Regions from separate parts of the Homo sapiens genome. Here region 1 is linked to region 2. Evidence: fine-mapped expression QTL. Tissue or cell type: whole blood. Region 2 holds a variant in brackets; the other region holds the start of a gene. All regions are shown on one strand. Distances are from middle to middle. Region 1 holds the start of ATPSCKMT (ATP synthase c subunit lysine N-methyltransferase). Region 2 overlaps ATPSCKMT (ATP synthase c subunit lysine N-methyltransferase).

Region 1 (2,916 bases), 22 kb after region 2:
GTCCTTTTGACATACATGAGCTATTGATATTAGGAAAAATCCTCTCTCACTCCCCAGTGTTTTGACAGGGAATCAACTACACAGAGGATGCCATAGGACATTCTATTTTTCACAACAATCGAAGGAGCCAAATGAATTGCAGAAGTCACCATTTTTAATGAGGAAACACTGAATTGGCAAAGCTAACGTGAAATAAGACCTGACTCCAAAATCTAAAATGTCCTTGAAGAACACTTCAAGGTCTAGCGCGTAAGTATGCCAAGCATGAAGAGTTAACAGATCACCAACCATCCCATGACAGTCAGTCCTCCCTGTTTTTAGAGACAGAATCTCGCTCTGTCGCCCAGGATGGAGTGCAGTGGCGCGATTATAGCGCACTGTAAACTGAACTCCTGGGCTCCACCCATCCTCCTGCCTCAGCCCCAGAGTAGATGGGAACACAGTCGCCAAGTCTGTTCTTGAGTTTCAGGACAGGGTCAAATGTTATAGTGCATGTATTCATTTCAGCACTTATTGAGTGCCTAATAAAGTCTGGGAATAATACAACTTTATTAGTTAAGTCCCTGCCCATGGCAGTAGGGGAGAAGCAAGGATGGAAACCCTCAACAAATAAATCTAAACCTATCAAATATTAAGTCATGATCTTGGAGGGCGGGGAGGAAGGCAGCATAAGAGATTTAGAGGACAGCTGCGGTTGCCAAGATCTTTCTGAGGCAGCATAATACAGGGCTTAAGAGTGAGACCTGCCGGGCACCGCGGTGGCTCAGGCCCAACACTTGGGGAGACCTAGACGGGTACATCACTTGAGGTCAGCCGTTCGAGACCAGCCTGGCCACTACGGCGTTAACACCGTCTCTACTAAAAATACAAAAATTAGCGAGCGTGGTGGTTCTGTGCCTGTAGTCCCAGCTGCCTGGGAGGCTGAGGCACGAGAATCACTGGAACCCGGGAGGCGGAGGCTGCAGTGAGCCGAGACCGCGCCACTGCACTCCAGCCCGGGCTACAGTCTTGTCTCAAAAAAAAAAAAAAAAAAAAAGAGTGTGGGACCCATTGCATCAGGCTGTGTAACTGTTTCTTACTAGCTGTATACCAGTGGCAAGTTACTGAACCATTTGTGCAAAATGTTAATTTATTTACCAACACTGTGTTCAGCTTGCCAGGCACCGTTCTCCTTGAATCTCACAGCAGCCCTGTGAGTAGGCACTACTGTTACCACCGTCACTTTGCAGACAGGGAACCCGAGGGACAAAGAAGTTAAGGGATTTCCTCAAAGCCACAGCTAGGAAGAGCGGCAGAACTGCGATTCCAATCCATCAGTGTGCCTCCACTATCCCTATTCCTTAAGATCGTGCCAAAGGCTGAGTCACTTGCACTAAGTAGCCTAGAACAGTCTCTGGGGAAACGCGCCCGCCGACAAGGATCGCCAGAACCGGCGCGGGCACCGCGCGGCGACCAGGAGCTCTGGTCACCGAAGGCCAGGCTGGAGGCCAGAGCAGCCGCCCGCACCCGGTCACCGCCTCGACAGTGGAGACCTCAGCTGACCGCGAGCCCCCGGCCCGCCCGCACCCCTTCTCATGCCCCCAGGAACCCGCCAAGCCGCTCCAGCCTCACCTCCTCCTCCCTCCATCGCGAGATTTCCAACAGCGTTTTTAAAAAAAAAAAAAAAAAAAAAAAAAAAAAAAAAAAAACCGGAAATGGGTCCTACCATCTTCTCGGAGCCGGAGTGCGAAGAAATAAAGAAATAGTGCTTTAAGTCAATGAATTCCTCCTTGGGACCCACTATCGAGAAACTATCAGTGGTAACGTTTTAAAAAATGACAAATTCAATCTGCTCTTGACTTGTGTGTCCTAAGATTTCCACTAAGTGTCTTCAAACCTCCCCCTCCCCGGCTTCCTGGATAATAGAAGTTCCCGAAGGCCGCCGATTCCAGAAGATACTGTCTGGCGTGAAATTAGTCTCAGTAGAAACATAAGTCCCGCGCGTCTTGTGCTGCGCGTGCGCAAGCTTTTGGGCCCTCCCGAGAAAGGGAAGTGCATTCTCGCTTCCGTAGCGGTCTCCGCCGGTTGGGGGGAAGTAATTCCGGTTGTTGCACCATGGCGTCCATGGGGACCCTCGCCTTCGATGAATATGGGCGCCCTTTCCTCATCATCAAGGATCAGGACCGCAAGTCCCGTCTTATGGGACTTGAGGCCCTCAAGGTAATGGCACAGGGACCTGCTCGCGGTGGGCTAAGGGGAGGTGGCCGAGGCCGTGGCTCTGCGCCTGCGCGAGTTGAGGAGCGGCTCTGCCATGTGCTCCCCGGAAAGGTCGAGAATCTCCGTCTCCCTGCGGTCTCCGGCCGCTCAGCCCGCTTACTGAGCTCGGGAGACGCCGGCGCCTAATCCTGGGCTCGGAATGTGGGGGCCAGCCAGGCTGGGCCGCCAGCGCCCTTCGGAGCTGGGTGGGGCCGCTCAGTCCGGTCGCCCGCGGGAGCAAAGCGGGACCGCCTCCCCGCCCGGCTCCTCCAGCCTGACGGCCGCGTGGGACTGCGCTCCAGTGGGAGGGCGCCGGGGAGATGCTCTGTCACCTGTCGGTTAAGGCGCTGCTGCTTAACCTTTCGCTGGTCCACCCGCAACGGCCCTTCCGTTTTCTTTGTCACTCGTAAAGGTGTGGTCACTTAACAGGGTATTTCATTTCTGAGTGCTTTTTTGCCCACCCTTGAGGAAAAATAGCGAAGAGTGAAAAACGGACGCACATAACCGTAATACAAGGTGGTGTGCAGTGAGAAGGACAGCTACGGAGAGGGTGCACATAAGCGTGGTGCTGGAGGACAGCTTTAGATCGGGGTGAGAGGTAGCATTCTAGGGAGAGGAAACGGTAGAAGTAAAGGCTTGGGCAAGAATGCGCATGGCACGTTGTAGAATGGAAGAGCCATC
Region 2 (2,916 bases):
GAGCTACTGAAAAAGGGACAGACACTAGCTGCCAAAAACCTGGCTGAAGTCCACAACATCACATCCCCTCATCTCAGACTCACACAGGTGCTCTCTACACCATCACACTGTTTACTTCAGAGAACTCCACACACACTAAGATTCCCTTGCTTATTTGTTTGTCTCTCCTTTCCAGAATAGGAATTCCATGAGGCCAGGGGCTTTGCATGTCTATTTACCGCAGAATCTCAGAGCTTCTTCTACAGTAGATACTGAATACATATTTGTTGAATGAATGAATGTGTCCCCAGATGTTTCTCATTTAAATGAAAATGATCAAACTGACCAATTTTTATAAGTTTAGTTAAAGATGTGACCATCTTACTTCATTACATCTCCATTAAGACAGTTTGGTATTTCAGTTACAGGTGTATGACTGGGAGTTCAATTCTTTTCTGTGATAAGTACGAATGACTCAAGCTACCATTCAATATTCACTTTACAGATATATGAAGCTTGTCTACTCACGTTCAAAGGTTTTCCTTAATTCGTCTTTTATCTAAATCAGTCAAGTCTCTTCTCATAAATGAGAAATATTAAATGAGTGGCAGCTCTCAAGAAATAAAAAAGTGACTAGCAGAAATAATCTGCAACTTCTGTGAATAAGATTTTTCTCAGTGTCTAAAATAACAAACACCATTTATGGACCAAAGACTAGGTGCCATGAGTTTTAGAAATTGGTCCCCACTCCACTGTTATGTGTACCATTATCCCAGTGGCAGAGATACACAGAAAGCCAAGGCTCAGAGGCAGTAAGTCATGGGTCCGAGGCCTCTTGCTGATGACAAAACTGGAATCTGAACCCACGTCAGGCTTACATTTACACATACATGTATACAAATGTACACATATACAGCTTAGATTCCATAAAATACAGTAATCTAGTGGTGGAACAAATTATTTCTAATAAATGTTATAAAATATAAACGCCTCTCTGAATCCTTTAGAAAATTAATTTTGCCATGAAGTACAAAAAGGAAAGAGATACAACTTAAGTATGAACAAAGTTATAGGATACTACAAACAGTTGGTAATATATACTGTCTTTAAAAATCATTTCTCCTTATCGAGGCATTAAGCCATATTGTTTATAATGTGAAGAGCTATTGGCATCTTATTTTCCTACCCATAACCATGACCATCACTTATTCATCTTTTCATGCATCCAGGTGCATGGAAAGGCAGTAAGTACAATTTTTAAGAAAATAGCATCAAAAGCAGATTTTAAATCTACCTGTTTTTCTTCGTTTGTTTTCTCCAACAGTTAAGGAAAGTAATAGTAATTTCTCATTCCAAACCAAAGACAATTATGCTCCTTTGCTAAGGACACAGCTGTAAGTCTCTACAAGATCAGGGAAGACTACAATATTTCAGAAAAACACTCCCAGTCAAGTTTATGCTTGAATGGGCAGCTGGAAATGCATCGATGTACAGGGCCTCTTTTCACGGCCTCTAAAAGTGCTTGCATCATATGCCCACACTGTGTCTATCCCCTCCCCCGTGACGTGGTCTGGAGTCCAATGTGGGAAAGGGAACCGGCAAGCAATAACTC[G/A]TGCATCATCCTCAAGTTCACGTTCAAGTTTCTTCTCCAACTGCAGCATCTGTGGAGAGTAACAGCTATTATTTTAGTGAGCAGTGAGTCAGAGGAAATGATCCCAAAATTTCCTGTTTTTAAGAGTCCCTGAAAATACCTGAGCAAAAATTACTACTTGTTAAAAAGAGCACTCTGGGACACAAACACATAAACAAACAATCCATTGAAATACAGAAGATACACTGACAGCAGTTGTAAGAACACCTTCTAGTATTAATTATAAAATATGCCATTTTTAGCAGATGTCTATCATAGATTTATAGTTTTCTAAATAAAATCAGGATGTGGCAGTAATTTTAATAAGAAGCAGTTTTAAATAACGCACTTCAACACTTCAATATACCTAGTCTCATATATTTAAGACATTATTTTTCCACCATTTTTTAAGAGAGAGGGGTCTTGTTATGTTGCCCAGGCTGGTCTCAAACTCCTGGGCTCAAGCAATCTGCCCACCTCGGCCTCCCAAAGTGCTGGGATGACAGGCGTGAGCCACTGCGCCCAGCCACATTTTTGCACATTTTTAACATCTCTGAAATCAGGACACATCACACAACACTAATTGTCTTAGAATTATAATTAGCAATTTTTTTGTTTCTCAATAGCAATGGTGCATCCTAAAATCAAGATCTACAGTCAATGAAATGTGGTATAGTTAGACTATGAAAAAATATGCACAATTCTACCAACTGGAAATATCATGAAATATTTCATAATTTTTAAAAATGTATCCATAATATACTGATAATGAATTTCTTGATAGCCTAACTTATACCACCGTTGTACCATTTTATTATCAATCTACCAATAAAGAGTTTTTATTATTTGCTAGAAGTATTGATATTTTAATTACATCAGCAAATTAACAACTACTTAAAAACTTATCTGCAGATCCTAAAAATATATTACCACCTTCACCACCTTCACATCCTAAAAATAATTTTTTTCTACTTTCTTCTTTTAACTTGCTATTTTGGGATAATTTCAAACTTCCAGAAAAGTTGCAATAACAGAACAAAGAACTCCTGTATACCTATACCCAGGTTCAAATAATTTTTTTTTTTTTGAGACAAGATTTATCGCCCAGGCTGGACTGCATTGGTGTGATCTTGGCTCAATGCAACCTCCGCCTCCTAGACTCAAATCATCCTCCCACCTCAACCTCCTAATTTTGTAGAGATGGGGTTTTACCATGTTGCCCGGGCTGGTCCTGAACTCATGAGCTCAAGCCATCTGCCCACCTCAGCCTCTCAAAGTGTTGGGACTACAGGCGTGAGCCACTGCAG

What was found.
Region 1: ATPSCKMT starts here. The variant in region 2 is fine-mapped to the expression of ATPSCKMT in whole blood (INTERVAL, PIP above 0.99).

What each region holds. Positions count from the first base shown.
Region 1 is chr5:10,248,247-10,251,162 of GRCh38, forward strand. ATPSCKMT (ATP synthase c subunit lysine N-methyltransferase) reads right to left here and starts at 1,642. Exons shown (of 5, transcript NM_199133.4): 1 at 1,612-1,642. The coding sequence starts at 1,627. It overlaps CCT5 (chaperonin containing TCP1 subunit 5), which reads left to right and starts at 2,034. Exons shown (of 11, transcript NM_012073.5): 1 at 2,034-2,199. The coding sequence starts at 2,095. RefSeq lists silencers at 1,412-1,531, 1,542-1,601, 2,352-2,421, 2,492-2,631.
Region 2 is chr5:10,226,008-10,228,923 of GRCh38, forward strand. It overlaps ATPSCKMT (ATP synthase c subunit lysine N-methyltransferase), which reads right to left. Exons shown (of 5, transcript NM_199133.4): 5 at 1-1,640. The coding sequence ends at 1,434. Among named protein-coding and RNA genes, the nearest start is that of ATPSCKMT, 22 kb to the right of the region's middle. The variant G/A (reference allele first, on the strand shown) is at 1,592.